Linked DNA regions of Homo sapiens: region 2 is linked to region 1. Evidence: fine-mapped expression QTL. A gene starts in region 1. The other region holds a variant in brackets. All regions are shown on one strand. Distances are from middle to middle. Region 1 holds the start of FOCAD (focadhesin). Region 2 has its middle 26 kb from the start of FOCAD.

Region 1 (8,333 bases):
TGTGGTGTGTGCCTGCAGACCCAGCTACTTGGAAAGCTGAGGTGGGAGGATTGCTTGAGCTCAGGAGGTGAGGCTGCAGTGAGCTATGATCGTGTCACTGTACCCCAGCTTGTGTGACAAAGTAAGATCCTGCCTCAAACCAAAACAAAGCCAAAAACAAAAAACAGCCCTGCCCAACCACAGCCCCCCACAAAAAGCAATTAGTCATATGACATTGAAGAATTGAAGATGAACCTGTATCCTTTTAGAATTTTAGTTCCCTTCTGTGTAATTGGCTTGATTAGATTAAATCAGTGAAGCGTAAAAAAATTTTGAGTTCCAACATAAGACTTTAAGCTTACTAAAATAAAATTCCCAACAAGTATAACCTATTATCATTTCATATGAGAAAACTTCTATTTTCTTTTTTTAATAGAGATGGGGCGGGGGCCCTCACTGTTGCCCTGGATGGTCTTGAACTCCTGGCCTCAAGTTATCCTCCCACTTGGCCTCCCAAAGTGCTGGGATTATAGGTGTGAGCCATCATGCCCGGCCTGAGAGGGTACTTTTAACATTAAAACAAAACAAAAGAACAAAGCATAATCTCAGGAAAAGGACAGTCCTTTAAATTGAATAAATTTATTTTTATGAAAACTTAATACATTGTCCATATTTTTTAACTTCAGAATTTGTCAGAGAAAACTTTGTCATGAACTGGCAACTTCTGAGATCCTTTCTAGTTCTAAAAGCCTATCTCTCTAGTCTTGTCAAAATAAATCTGGTGGCTGCTGACTTGGTCTCCAGAATGAGCTGGCTCCATAAGGCTCTAGAATACGTCTTTCATCTTGGTATCTCCTGTGCCTACCACAGTGCCTGGTATAGCATTAGATTAAATAAATTAAAAGGTGAAATGATCCCTGCTGAATTGCAGTTCCTGTATGGAAGGAGTATACCCCAGAAGGAGGGGGTGAGCCCATGGACTTCCAGCTTAACCCTAGATCTGCAGTAAAAGCAGTCAAATCGGTTCTAGGCTCCAAGTTTAATGGTCAAGTTTCTCAATCCTGCCCAAAATCTGAATCTAGGATAGGTGTCTGCTGTGGCCTACATGTTTGTGTCCCCCAAAGTTAATGTGTTGAAGCCTAAACTCCAATGCAACAGGATTAAGAGGTGGGGCCATTGGGAGGTGATTAGGTTATGAGGACTCCTGTCGTGCCCTTATAAAAGACGCTTCAGGTAATCTATTTCCCCTTCTATCCTGTGATGATACACAGAAGGCACCATCCATGAGGAATGGAACCTCACCATATTCCAAATCTGCTGGCACCTTGCTTGGACTTCCCGGCTTGCAGAACTGTGAACAATAAATTTTTATTGTTTATAAATTACCCAGTCTAAGATACTTTGTTATAGCAGCCTGAACATAATAAGACGGTGTCAAAAGTAGACTCAATATCATTCTTTAAATGGGCATTTCCCTGTGTGTTCCTAAAACCAGGCTTTCTACAACAGAGGCAGTACGTTTACTCATTGAGCACCAGGGTGCTTGGATTCAAGTTTTGGCCTGGCCATTAGGTAGGTGCATGACCTTGGTCAAGATGCTTCACTTGCTGTACTTCAGGTTCCTTATTTATAAAATGTGGGTAATAACTGTAACTGCCTCATAAAGTTGTTCTGTGGATTAAATAAATTTATATACTTAGAACAGCGCTGTTTACAGAGTTATGTGTTTAATTATAATTTTGACTAATGAGCCTCAAGAAATATAGGAATAGAAGAAAAAATATTAAAATAGTCCTAAAAGAAATACTGGTGCATTTGGAAGACTGAAAGAGAGTATCATCAAAGTCCATAAAAAGGGAATTATAAGCCTTATAAAACTCCTTTGAAGCAAAGGATAACAGAGGTTGAATAACTTTAAGTAGGTTCAATATTGATTGATTGAATGATTGATTGTGACAGTCTCACTCCATCAGAGGCTGGAGTGCAGTGGCGCCACCTCGGCTCACTGCAACCTCCGCCTCCCGGGTTCAAGCGATTCTCCTGCCTCAGCCTCCTGAGTAGAGTAGCCGTGACTGCAGGCGCGCAACCCCACGCCGGGCTAATTTTTGTATGTTTTTTTTAGTAGAGATGGGGTTTCACCACGTTGCCTAGGCTGGTCTTGAACTCCGCCCTCCTCGGCCTCCCAAAGTGCTGGGATTACAGGTGTGAGCCCCCCCACCTGGCCCCAAGATTAATTTAGATAAATTCTTAGAGGGTGAATGCATAGTTGGTTATTGGGAAAACTGTTAACGGTCTGTGATACATAATTACTTTTCTGAGGTGATGGGGAACCAAATTCTTCCTACAAATGAGAAACAGAACTTCTTGTCTACACATTAAAATGACTTTGGAAACTTAGAAAAATATCAATGTCAAGATCTGGCAGCAGACCTTTTTCAACCAAGTGATGAGGCCCAGGCACTTGTTTTTTTATTTTTATTTTTTCCTAAGGGTGCCCCAGGGTTTAGAAACAACTAAGTCAGATATTTTTAGAGTAATTTGTCTTAACTCTTTCATCTTGCGTAAAATTTCCATTCTGTCATCCACAACCGGAATTCCACTCCGTCATACCAGTCTCTCCTCGTTTTTTTCTGCTGGCTCTTTTCAGCGTGTTTCATCGTGGCTGCTGTCTGTCTGTTACAGCCTTCTCACGTGGGAGCCCCTGCCCCGCCCCACGAGAAAATACATGTTTATCATTCAGTAAGTATTGCGCAAAATCGTAACAGAATAATTACTCGCGCCAATTCCCCCCAGATTAGATCAGCAGAAACACTTGGGCTAGAACTACCTCAGGACTATCTAACAAGTGGATATACCACAGTGGCGTGGAGAGCTGCAGTGTTATGTGTTGGCCAAATGAAGTAAAGACACCAAGTAGCTATTAGGCGAAGAACGAAGCGTCTTCGCGGCAAGTCGGCTGTCTGCTTTAAATTTTCTGAATCCTTAATGTTATCAGTATTATTTATTTCCCCCGAGAAACAAAATCTCCAAATACCAAGAAGCTGTTCTGTATTGCCAAAAGCTGCATAGGGGCAGGCTGCCAACAGGACTACCCGGGCACGCTGCAGTGGCATCTCTAGGCAGTTTCCTTTAATCTGATTTTCCTTGGGCTAACTCCTCACTGCGGTGCTGCTCCACAGCCAGCCCCCGCGCGCAGCCCTCCCCGCACCAGCTCGGCTGCAGAGCGCGGGTCCGCCGCCCACGCCGCCTTTCAACCGCAGTGCGCGGCCCGGGCCTTAGACGCGCGTGCGCGCGAGCCGGGGAGGGCGGGCCCCAGCCGGAGGAGGCGGAACAGGGCCTCGCGATATGCAGCCCATTGGCTCTCTCCTGCAGTCCCCGCCCCCGGGCGTTCGAGGCGGCGGGGCGGGCCACGTCAGGCAGCCGGCGCTGGGCTGAGCTTGTGGCAGAAGGGAGGTAAGCCGTGCGGGGCGGCGGGCTGCCACCGCTGCACCCCTGCTCGGGAGCCGCCGGGTCGCGCCGCCTGCGGCCCGGTCGGCTTGCATGGAGGGCGGCTGAGGCCCTGCGGGGCTGGGGCTGAGCTGGGAGACGGGGCAGTGGAGCATGTGGCGGCAGGGCCGCGTCGCGGCGAGGGGCAGCCGGGAGGGGGCTTTTTGCCCTCGTCCGGTCCTGCTGGGGCTCTCAGCTTCTGGAGGACTAGGCCTTCTGAGGTTACGGAGCTCCGAGATACCTGGGCAGGGCTGGCTGTGGTGACTGCGGTGGGACTTAGTGGGATCTCGACTCGGAAGCCGGTCGGCGCGATCCTTGCATACTTAGCTGCAGCAGGTTGCAGTCGTCCCACTCTCCTTCGACCGGTTCCCTAGTTGGGGGCAGAGCAGGAGATTCTGGCCGCGTCCTGCCTGGCCTGGGGTGACTGTCTCCTTCTCATTCCCGGTGACTCACTCAGATCATGTCCACTTATAATGCAAAGGCTTATGGGTGAGCAGGGCCTGTTTTCAGTCTCCTAGTTCTCTGGCTCCGTCCGCACTTGCGGCAATTACTTGAAGAAAGAGTATGTTAGATGTATGTTTTGAAATTTTCGCAGCAGCTAACGCGTGGAGACGTGCAGTTATGTTGCATTTACCCTTCATGAGTTTTAGTTTCAGCTGTGGCGTCCTGATATCTCAGTGTGGTTCCTGAATTTGGAGCTTTTGAAATGAATGAAATCCTGCCAATTTCATGCAGTCATTCATTCATACATTCCAAACTTTTTTGATGGATGCCTTAATGGTCAGCCTCATACCAGGTATTAAAATCGGCATTTCCTGCGTTTTATTCCAGTTTATATGTTAGTTTTATTGTCTAGATTTGAGTTGGAAATTTTTTTTTTTTTTGTTATTTTCAGGTTCTAGTATCCCTGAAACCATCGTGGCTCTGAGGGTGTAATCCTGATAACTGTATCAGTAATGACTCCAGGTTTCAGTGGCCTATCTGTAAGAAGAGGAATGGGATTAGTATAATTTTGAGATTTTCCAGGAGAGGAGGGTAGATGGCATGTTTCCTGAACTGTGTTAACAGGAAGTAACTATTTTAAAAACACAGGATGCATTTTATGATTATGTTTTACTGTGTCAACGAACATTGTATCTGTCCACATTCACTTTTTGACTACCAAGCAAGTGCATGTTTACAATTTTGATTCACATCCAATTCCTGCGTAGAAAGCACTGTGACTCATCTGAATTTTGAAATGAAGTAATCATGAGCTTTTTAATGTTACATACAAAGGTATGATATTGAAACAATTGCATAAAAATGCAATTTTCAAAGCATTTTCACTTGCTTTTATAGATTAGTGGAAGCTAAAACCTCTGCCTTGATTATTTGCTTACTTAATCAATGTTAGGTAGTTACCATCTCTTGGCTAATGTTTATCAATATTATATCTATTTTAACATTTGTTTCATTAACCCCAAATTTACTGGATTTTAACTGATTGTTGTCTCCAGTTGACGCCTGATAACCAAAAGGTTATCAGGAGGAGCTGGAGGAGGCGGAACACAGCCTCGCGCCCTGTAATAAATAGTTTGAAATCAAAATTTTCATGGACGTATAACCAGAGTTTTTCATTTGTTGATTGATTGATGGTGCTTACCGGTAAATCGTTTGGCCTTTTTCCCCGTTTAAAATGATTTATGAAACAGTCTGAGACATAATATTCTTAGCTTCATGATACTTTTGGGATATTGTCCACAAGTGATTAGTTGAATTAAATTGTTAATATCACTATTAGGAGTTTGGAAAATTTAAGAAAATATAACTTCTTAAAATTTTGCATTTGCTATTTTTTTGTTTGTTTGGAGACAGGGTCACTCTGTCGCCCAGGCTGGAGTGCAGTGCTGCGATCTCGGCTCACTGCAACCTCCGCCTCCCAGGTTCAAGTGATTCTTCTGCCTCAGCCTCCTAAGTAGCTGGGATTACAGGCGCATGCCACCACACCCAGCTAATTTTTGTATTTTTAGTAGAGACGGAGTTTCACCATGTTGGCCAGGCTGGTCTCGAAATCCTGACCTCAAGTGATCCCTCCGCGTTGGTGTTACATCTTTCAGTTCTAGAAATGGACCTGATCAAGATTGCAAGGTTAATGGGGAAAATTCAAGAGCTGAGGACATTAACCTTCTAGCGGGAAAAAACCACAATGAGAAATAATAACTATATTTGGAGGAAGTGTAAGGAAATAATAGTTTAAGGATTATTAGTCTATAACAAATCTTGATCTTAATCAGTATTTCTTGATGTATAACAAAGAACTTGGTTTAAGCACAAAAAGAAAATTAGGGTGATAATTTAAATTTTGATCAAGTGGGTAGTAAGTATTTCTTTAGGAGATGAGAAATCTATAGATCTAGAGATGCATGGTATAATAAAGTATGGTATACTTATATGAGTATAAGTCTGTGATTCACAATTAGTAATAGATTGATGGAGGTTTTGTTACTATTTCCACATGATAAGAAACAAGATTTGCTAAGCTGATAGGACAAGGGATATTTGTGAATTTCCTCCATGTAAATGATTTGAAACAACAAAGTTTTAAGTGATGTGGAAGAGCCCATCTATTTTCAAACAATGGATTGAAATGTAGTTTTTGTAACCCTCTAAGTACTTCTGGCCTCATAGTTTTTTTTTTTTTTCCCCCTACTCAGGTCATATTGAAAGTAATAAAATTGTGTTTATGATTTTAAAAGTTTATATTGGCTTTCATTTAATTAGTCTGAGTTACTTTAGTTTTATATATTTTGAAGATGTTCCAAAACCCTTGACTTTAAATACTGTATAGCTTTCCATTGTTCATGAAAGAAAACATTTCTTTAGGCCAAAGGAAATTGAGAATCCAACTTGCATAGATAGTCAGTTTATTACTATTATTTAAAGATTTATCTTTTTACTTGCCCGGGGACCAATGAAGCATCCACTGAAGCTCCTAAACTGGAGAAGGTATCTTCTAATCTCCTTTTGGTCAGATGAGTTCTTGCTAATTTGGCTGATACATATGTTGAACAAATGTAATACAGTAATTGTGGGTGTTGTAACTGTAGTTTTATGAAGTTTTTTTGGTTGCCAGGGTGTATCTTTCCCTTCTCTCTTGACAAACCTTTCTATTTGGCCTACCTGCTTTCATAATTTATTCTTAAGTTCTACTCTATTTCCCAATCATTGCACATGTTGGTTTATGTAACCAAACCTGATTTTAGTATATGCTATTAGGACATACACGTGGAGAAGAATGGAGGAAACTTTTTATTAAATGTTTTTAATTGTTGAAACACTTAAGTAAATGTGATTTTTAAAGACTCATAGTTATTAAAGGTATTGTATTCATTATTTTTTATTTATTCCTTCATTCAGCAAAGACAGCAACTACTTTGGTGCTAGGTCCTTAACTTATCTTTAAGGAACTTACAGTATTGCATGGACTTCATAAACAACACCAAAATACAATGGGATAAACATTATAATTAGTCGTTCACATAGTATAGTGGGGGATAGAGAAAACTGTGTGCAAGGTTTGAGGAGATTCAGAGAAGGCTTTATGGAGGAATTTTCATCTGAATTGAAGTTTGAAAGTGAGTAGGAATTAGTTGGTGAGGTTAGAGGATAAGGCATTCTGGGCACAAGAAAGCAGTGAGGACAAATAGATAGGTTAGAAACGGGACATAGACCCTTAATGTGTTAAGATAGAGAATAGATCAACTTTAAAAAGTAAACAAGGGTAAATAATGAAAGTTCTCTTCCACACCGTGTTAGCCATTTTGAGCTTTAATCTGGAGGCTATGTTGATCCATGAGTAATAGATTTTAAGTGGAAGAAAGTTAACATCAGTTTCATGAGGCAATGTGAGGAATGAATTGTAGTGGGGTAAGGCAGACATTTGCATTACATGTGACAGAACTCCGAAAATGCAGTGCTGCTGGAGAGAAGAGGATGAATTCCAGATATATTAAGGTGATTGAGTTAGTGGCCAGATGGATGTAGGGGATGAAGGAGTGATGGAGTCAAGGATACCTCCTAGGTTTATGACTTGCCGAGATAGGAATCACATGAGCAATATCAGATGTATGGGGAGAATAAGATCAGTAGTCTTGGACATGGGTTTAGGTCACACAATTGGTGCTGTTCAGTGGGTATTTGGCTGCTTTGGCCTGGAGTTAAAGAGAGGATTCTAGGCTGGAGATAGAGATTAGGATGCTATCAATTTATAGGTAGTTAAAACAATGTGAGAATGGATGATGCCTAAGAGAGTTTGTAGAATAAGAAAGAATAAAGCAGAAGGGAAACGCTGGGAAACACTACCCTGTAGGAAAGATGACCCAGTGAAAAAGACAGAAGGAACAGCCTAATGACAGTGGATGTCTAGAAGATAAGGAGGGAGAGAATCCAACAAGAAGAGACTGGTCAGATGCCATAGGGAATAGGAGAAAGAGCTAACTACAGTTTTTGGAAGGTTTCCCAGATAGGCCTGGATCATTAATTTGTAATAATACTAGTTCATATGATTCTGTGACTTTTGGCAGCAAAATTCAGTAGAACCAGAGATGATAAATAGTTGGATTGATACAGTATTTGGATTTTGTTACGTGCGTATGGTAAGATTGCAAAGGAGTTGAAACTATTGGTGAAAGAATGGTCAGAGTGATGGAATGTGAAGTTTAGACTGGATAGGGATGACGATAGAGCCAGGAGGAGCTGAAAGATTGAGATAACATAATTGGTTCAAAGGATTAAAAGTCTGGATGAAGTAAATATACAAGTGTTTGTAGCTAAAAGGGAGATAATGAAAAGGATAGAAATCCTCTGGTCAGAGTAGAATATTGGAA
Region 2 (8,333 bases), 27 kb before region 1:
TATTCCAGTTCTATCATGAGATTACAGCAGTTCAGTCATCTTTAGGCTCCACTTTCTTTTTTTTTTTTTTTTTTTTGAGACATAATCTCACTCTGTCGCCCAGGCTGGAGTGCAGTGGCAAGATCTCGGCTCACTGTAACCTCCGCCTCCTGGGTTCAAGCGATTCTCCTGCCTCAGCCTGCTGAGTAGCTGGAACTACAGGCGTGTGCCATCACGCCCGGATAATTTTTTGTATTTTTAGTAGAGACGGGGTTTCACCGTGTTAGCCAGGATGGTCTAGATCTCCTGACCTCGTGATCCGCCCACCTCGGCCTCCCGAAGTGCTGGGATTACAGGTGTGAGCCACCCGACCCTAGGCTCCACTTCTAATTATAGTTATCTTGCTATTTCTGCCACATCTGCAGTGATTTCCTCTACTGAAATCTTGAACCCCTCAAAGTCACCCATGAAGGTTGGAATCAACTTTTTCTAAATTGTTCATGTTGATATTTTGACCTCTTCCCATGAGTCACAAATGTTCTTAATGGCATATATAATGGTTAACCCCTTCCAGAAGGTTTTCAATTTACTTTGCCGAGATCCACCAGACAAATTACTATCTATGGCAGCTGTAGCTTTACAATAACGATAGTAATAATAAAAGAGTTGAAAACTGAAATTACTTCTTGATCCGTGGGCTGCGGAATAGATGTCGTGTTAGCAGGCATAATAGTAACATTCATCTCCTTGTACATCTCCATCACAGCTCTTGTGTAACCAGGTACATTGTCAGTGAGGATGAAAGGAATCTTTTTTTTTTTTTTTTTCCTGAGCAGTAAGTCTTTACACGGGGCTTAAAATATTCGGTAAACCATGCTATAAACAGAAGTGCTGTCATTCAGGCTTTGTGATTTCACTTATAAAACAGTGGCAGAATGGATTTAGCATCATTTTTAAGGGCCCTAAAATTTTCAGAATAGTAAGTATGCATTGGTTTCAAATGAAAGCCATCAGCCCCTAACAAGAGGGTCAACCTGTCTTTTGAAGCTTTGAAGCAAGGCACTGACTTCTCCTCTTTAGCTATAAAATTTCTAGATGGCATATTCTTTCAATGGAAAGGTGTTTCATCTACACTGAAAATATGTTGTTTAGTGTTCCTCCTTCATCAGTGATCTCAGCTAGATCTGGATAATTTGCTGCAACTTTTACATCAGCACTTGCAGCTTCACTTTGCACTTTTATGTTTTGAAGATGACTTCCTTCTTTAAACTTCATGAACCAATCTGCTAGCTTCTAAATTTTCTTCTGCACCTTCCTCATGTGTCTCAGCCTTCATAGAATTGAAGAGAGTTAGAGCCTTGCTCTGGATTAGGTTTTGGCTTTAGAGAATGCTGTGGCTGGTTTGATTTTATATCCTGACCGCCAAAACTTTCTCCGTATCAGGAACGAGGCTGTTTTGCTTTCTTAGCATTCATGTGTTCACTGGAGTAGCTCTTTTTAATTTTCCTCAATAACTTTCCCTTTGCATTCACAATTTGGCTAACTGATGCAAGAGGCCTAGCTTTCAGCCTACCATGGCTTTTGAGATGCTTAATCGTTTTTAGCTTTTGATTGCTAGTGAGGGATGAGTGACTCTTCTTTTCACTTGAACGTTTAGAAGTCTTAGGGTTATTGGTCTAATTTCAATATTGTTATTTCTCAGGGAATAAGGAGGCCTGAACAAAGGGAGAGAGATGGGGGAATGTCTGATCTGTGGAAGCGTGGAACAATCAGGACACACACAACATTTCTCAATTAAATTCAAGTCTTCTAGGGTGTGGTTTGTGGTGCACCAATGCAATTGCAAGAGTAACATCAAAGATCACTAATCACAGATAGCCATAAGAGATAAGACATTTTTTATTGTGTCTATTAAATTCTTCTCTCTTTTTTTCTTTATTAGTCTTGCTAGCGGTCTATCAATTTTGTTGATCCTTTCAAAAAACCAGCTCCTGGAGTCATGACTTTTTTGAAGGGTTTTTTGTGTCTCTATTTCCTTCAGTTCTGCTCTGATTTTAGTTATTTCTTGCCTTCTGCTAGATTTTGAATGTGTTTGCTCTTGCCTTTCTAGTTCTTTTAATTGTGATGTTAGGGTGTCAATTTTAGATCTTTCCTGCTTTCTCTTGTGGGCATTTAGTGCTATAAATTTCCCTCTACACACTGCTTTGAATGTGTCCCAGAGATTCTGGTATGTTGTGTCTTTGTTCTCGTTGTTTTCAAAGAACATCTTTATTTCTGCCTTCATTTTGTTATGTACCCAGTAGTCATTCAGGAGCAGGTTGTTCAGTTTCCATGTAGTTGAGCGGTTTTGAGTGAGATTCTTAATCCTGAGTTCTAGTTTGATTGCACTGTGGTCTGAGAGATAGTTTGTTATAATTTCTGTTCTTTTACATTTGCTGAGGAGAGCTTTACTTCCAAGTATGTGGTCAATTTTGGAATAGGTGTGGTGTGGTGCTGAAAAAAATGTATATTCTGTTGATTTGGGGTGGAGAGTTCTGTAGATGTCTATTAGGTCTGCTTGGTGCAAAGCTGAGTTCAATTCCTGGGTATCCTTGTTGACTTTCTGTCTCGTTGATCTGTCTAATGTTGACAGTGGGGTGTTAAAGTCTCCCATTATTATTGTGTGGGAGTCTAAGTCTCTTTGTAGGTCACTCAGGACTTGCTTTATGCATCTTGGTGCTCCTGTATTGGGTGTATATATATTTAGGATAGTTAGCTCTTCTTGTTGAATTGATCCCTTTACCATTATGTAATGGCCTTCTTTGTCTCTTTTGATCTTTGTTGGTTTAAAGTCTGTTTTATCAGAGACTAGTATTGCAACCCCTGCCTTTTTTTGTTTTCCATTTGCTTGGTAGAGCTTCCTCCATCCTTTTATTTTGAGCCTATGTGTGTCTCTGCACGTGAGATGGGTTTCCTGAATACAGCACACTGATGGGTCTTGACTGTTTATCCAATTTGCCAGTCTGTGTCTTTTAATTGGAGCATTTAGTCCATTTACATTTAAAGTTAATAGCGTTATGTGTGAATTTGATCCTGTCATTATGATGTTAGGTGGTTATTCTGCTCGTTAGTTGATGCAGTTTCTTCCTAGTCTTGATGGTCTTTATATTTTGGCATGATTTTGCAGCGGCTGGTACCGGTTGTTCCTTTCCATGTTTAGCGCTTCCTTCAGGAGCTCTTTTAGGGCAGGCCTGGTGGTGACAAAATCTCTCAGCATTTGCTTGTCTGTAAAGTATTTTGTTTCTCCTTCGCTTATGAAGCTTAGTTTGGCTGGATATGAAATTCTGGGTTGAAAATTCTTTCCTTTAAGAATGTTGAATATTGGCCCCCACTCTCTTCTGGCTTGTAGGGTTTCTGCCGAGAGATCCGCTGTTAGTCTGATGGGCCTCCCTTTGAGGGTAACCTGACCTTTCTCTCTGGCTGCCCTTAACATTTTTTCCTTCATTTCAACTTTGGTGAATCTGACAATTATGTGTCTTGGAGTTGCTCTTCTCGAGGAGTATCTTTGTGGCGTTCTCTGTATTTCCTGAATCTGAACGTTGGCCTGCCTTGCTAGATTGGGGAAGTTCTCCTGGATAATATCCTGCAGAGTGTTTTCCAACTTGGTTCCATTCTCCCCATCACTTTCAGGTACACCAATCAGACGTAGATTTGGTCTTTTCACATAGTCCCATATTTCTTGGAGGCTTTGCTCATTTCTTTTTATTCTTTTTTCTCTAAACTTCCCTTCTCGCTTCATTTCATTCATTTCATCTTCCATTGCTGATACCCTTTCTTCCAGTTGATGGCATCGGCTCCTGAGGCTTCTGCATTCTTCACGTAGTTCTCGAGCCTTGGTTTTCAGCTCCATCAGCTCCTTTAAGCACTTCTCTGTATTGGTTATTCTAGTTATACATTCTTCTAAATTTTTTTCAAAGTTTTCAACTTCTTTGCCTTTGGTTTGAATGTCCTCCCGTAGCTCAGAGTAATTTGATCGTCTGAAGCCTTCTTCTCTCAGCTCATCAAAGTCATTCTCCATCCAGGTTTGTTCCGTTGCTGGTGAGGAACTGCGTTCCTTTGGAGGAGGAGAGGCGCTCTGCTTTTTAGAGTTTCCCGTTTTTCTGTTCTGTTTTTTCCCCATCTTTGTGGTTTTATCTACTTTTGGTCTTTGATGATGGTGATGTACAGATGGGTTTTTGGTGTGGATGTCCTTTCTGTTTGTTAGTTTTCCTTCTAACAGACAGGACCCTCAGCTGCAGGTCTGTTGGAATACCCTGCCATGTGAGGTGTCAGTGTGCCCCTGCTGGGGGGTGCCTCCCAGTTAGGCTGCTCAGGGGTCAGGGGTCAGGGACCCACTTGAGGAGGCAGTCTGCCCGTTCTCAGATCTCCAGCTGCGTGGTGGGAGAACCACTGCTCTCTTCAAAGCTGTCAGACAGGGACACTTAAGTCTGCAGAGGTTACTGCTGTCTTTTTGTTTGTCTGTGCCCTGCCCCCAGAGGTGGAGCTTACAGAGGCAGGCAGGCCTCCTTGAGCTGTGGTGGGCTCCGCCCAGTTCGAGCTTCCCGGCTGCTTTGTTTACCTAATCAAGCCTGGGCAATGGCGGGCGCCCCTCCCGCAGCCTCGCTGCCGCCTTGCAGGTTGATCTCAGACTGCTGTGCTAGCAATCAGTGAGACTCCGTGGGCGTAGGACTCTCCAAGCCAGGTGCGGAATATAATCTCGTGGTGCGCCGTTTTTTAAGCCCGTCGGAAAAGCGCAGTATT[C/A]GGGTGGGAGTGACCCGATTTTCTAGGTGCCGTCTGTCACCCCTTTCTTTGACTCGGAAAGGGAACTCCCTGACCCCTTGCGCTTCCCAGGTGAGGCAATGCCTCGCCCTGCTTCGGCTCGCGCACGGTGCATGCACCCACTGACCTGCGCCCACTGTCTGGCACTCCCTAGTGAGATGAACTCGGTATCTCAGATGGAAATGCAGAAATCACCGTCTTCTCCATCGCTCACGCTGGGAGCTGTAGACCGGAGCTGTTCCTATTCGGCCATCTTTGCTCCTCCCTGCAACTAACTCCATTCTTAATTGGTAGGTGATTCTTATGGGTTGAATTGTTTTCCCCCAAATTCCTATGCTGAAGTTCCAACCCCTAGTACCTCAGAATGTGACTGTATTTGGAAATAGGGCCTTTAAAGAGGTGATTAAGTGACAGGGTGTGGTGGCTCACGCCTAGCACTTTGGGAGGCTGAGGTGGGTGATTGCCTGAGCTCAGGAGTTCTAGACCAGCCTAGCCAGCATGGCAAAACCCCATTTCTACTAAAAATTCAAAAAATTAGCTGGCTGTGGTGGTGTGCGCCTGTAGTCCCAGCTACTTGGCAGGCTGAGGAAGGATAATCACTTAAACCTGGGGGGCGGAGGTTTCAGTGAGCCAAGATGGCACCACTGCCCTCCAGCCTAGGGAACAGAGTGAGACTCTGCTCCCCTCCCCCCGCCCCACACAAAAAAATTTAAAAAGAAAGTTAGCCTGGCATGGTGGTGTGTGCCTGTAGTTCCAGCTAATTCGGAGGCTGAGGCATGAGAATCGCCTGAACATGGGAGGAGGAGGTTGCAGTGAGTCAAGATGGCGCCACTGCACTCCAGCCTGAGTGACAGAGTGACTCCATCTAAAAAAAAAGAGAAAGAAAGGAGAAAGAAAGAAAGAAAGACAGACAGACAGAAAGAAAAAGAGGTGATTAAGATATAAGAAGAGGAAGTTTGGCCAAAGAGACACCCAGGATGTATGCACATAGAGGAAAGATCATGGGAGGATATGGTGAGAAAGTGGTCATCTGCATGTCAAGGAGCTAGGCCTCGGGAGAAAGCAGGCCTGCTAACACTTTGATGTTGGATTTCCCTGCATCCAGAGCTGGAAGAAAATAAATTTCTGTTGTCTAAGTCACCCAACCTGTGATACTTTGTTATGGCAGCTGTAGCAAACTAATGTAGTAATAGTCATTGAAAGATTTTATGCAGGGAAGCAGTCATTTTGATGGCATTGTGAAAGCATTGGAAAGCAGTGAGATGCAGGTGGGCAGATCAGTTAGGATATTGCATCAGTCTAGGCAAGAGATGGGAAGGGCTTGACTAAGGCAGTGACCATCGGAGTGGTGCAATGAGATATGAGAGATAGCTCAGAGGTAAAAATTAATGGAGAGAGAGTGGATAAGTTGGCAACATTTTCCAGGTTTCTTGCTCAAGTGGCTGGGTGAATAATATGCCATCAAGGCCTGAAGTAAGAAATATAGGAAGATAATTCAGTTTTGTTTTCAAGATAATGAGTTTGGTTTTTTGAGATGTTTTCTTGGAGTACCTGTGGGACATCCTTATGGACAGGTTCAGTGGTAGCTAAATATCCAGATGTGGAGACGAGGAGATAAGAGAGGCTACAGACAATAACTTGTGAGCCATCAGCAATAATAACAGCAATAATAGTAGTTATGGTTAACACTTAACCTAGGGCTTATCAGGCGCCAAGCAATATTCTGAACCCTTTGGATGTCACATATCCTTACAATGACCTATGGTGTAGAAACTACTGTTATTCCCATTTTAAAGATGAGGAAATTGAGGCAGAGAAAAAATACCCAAAGTTACTCTCAGCCAGGAAGTGTAGAGTCAGGCTATGAGCCCATACAGTCTGGTTTTAGGGCATGTATCTTGACAAGGTGATTTGCCTCTTCATGTAGTTGGTAGTTAAAATTATGGAAAAATATTCAGATCCCTTAGAAAGAAGATTTCTATAGGGTGAGAAGAAAAGAAGTCAGTATAAAATCTGAGGACATTTCAATACCAATATGTAGAGATCAGCAGAAAAAGAAGATCCGAAGAGACAGCAACAGTTTGGTTAGAATGATGGAAGGAAGACCAAGATGAGAAGTGGCCAACAGTATCAATGCCACAGAGATACCAAGTAACAGACTCAGAAAAGTGTTCACTGGATGTGAAAAGTAGGAGAAAGCTGGTAGCCCCAGCAAGGGTCATTTTATTTGGGTTTGAGGGAGAAGGATCAGAAGTCAGATCATAGTGACTGGAGAAGTTAGAAAAAGAGCATACAGAAATAAAAGAAGAATTATGGCAGAGAAGGATATGAGAGGCAGACAGTCAAAGAGAAAGAGAGAGAGAGAGAGCAATTTGGGCAAAAATTATGGGGACATTCCATGACAAGACTGTGATTAAAATGGAGTGGTTGAACATGTTCATAGACCACGGGAAAGGAGTCAGCAGAAGAGGGGAGGTTTAAGACAGAGAGGAATAATTTGAGAAGGGATGTTTTAGAGAAATTAGAGAAGTAGAATTAAGAGCACAGCTGGAGAGCTAAGGAGGCTGTGGAGATGTTTGGCAATGGCAACTGAAAATGATGGCATTCACTCTGATGTTCTTGGTCTTCTCTGAGAAGTACGGAAGCAAAGTTATCTGAAAAATGTGGTAGAGGAGAATGGGTTGGGAGACAACCAAAGACTAGTAAAAGGACTGAGAAGTAGCATGAAGGGCTCAATAGACAGGAGAAACATTGAAATTGTAGTGTCAGCACCACTTAAAGATGTATGATAGTCTCCAATGTGCTGAGTTCTGTAGGAGGAAGAGTAGACAACATGTATTATAAGATTGTCTCAAGACTGGGTTTTGCAGCAGGCTGTGATAGAAAAACCTGACTTGGTTGTGAGGAGTGGGGAAAGGGAGGTGTTAAAAATGAGGGAATTTAAATGGTTGGGAGGCAGTTGTTCACTTGATGGGCCAAGGAGCACAGACTAGGCAGGTAATTAAAGTCTAAGAGGGAACTGTTAAACTGAGATATTCTCAGTGTCCTTCTTTTTCTCACTATCTCTCTTCCTACTGTTTTACATTTTGTCACACTGGGAAAAAGAGGTCAATATTTAGAAAATCAGCCATTGTGTCTAATTTTCATATTGCTAAACATAGGATACATTGAGTACATATTGCTGCAAGCCCTATGGAAGTTAATTCAGTAATACCAGATTACAAAGGCATTTACACTTAGACTCAGAAATTCTACTTCTGTCACTTTATCCTACAGATATACTTAGGCAGGTACAAAATGATGTGGGCAAAAGCACCACTGTTATTAGTAAAAGCTTGGAAACCTCTGAAATGGCCATCAAAAAATGCTGCTGTAAAAGAAAGAATGAGGAAATTCTTTATATATTGACATGAAAAGATAACCAAGATTAAGTGAAAAAAAGGCAAGGTACAAAACAGTGGTAGAGTATGCACCTTTTGTCTATGAAAAATGGGGAATTATGAATATGTATGATATTTGCCTTAGTTGCACAAAGAACTACTGAAAATATCTACAAG

The links.
Region 2: its variant is fine-mapped to the expression of FOCAD in whole blood (TOPMed, PIP above 0.99).

Annotation. Positions count from the first base shown.
Region 1 is chr9:20,680,862-20,689,194 of GRCh38, forward strand. It overlaps FOCAD (focadhesin), which reads left to right and starts at 3,398. Exons shown (of 44, transcript NM_001375567.1): 1 at 3,398-3,432. FOCAD-AS1 (FOCAD antisense RNA 1) reads right to left here and starts at 3,889. Exons shown (of 2, transcript NR_121601.1): 1 at 3,707-3,889; 2 at 2,441-2,680. RefSeq lists a silencer at 3,001-3,700 and an enhancer at 3,100-3,840.
Region 2 is chr9:20,653,761-20,662,093 of GRCh38, forward strand. It overlaps a transcript of FOCAD not described here. Among named protein-coding and RNA genes, the nearest start is that of FOCAD, 26 kb to the right of the region's middle. RefSeq lists an enhancer at 4,926-4,985. The variant C/A (reference allele first, on the strand shown) is at 4,759.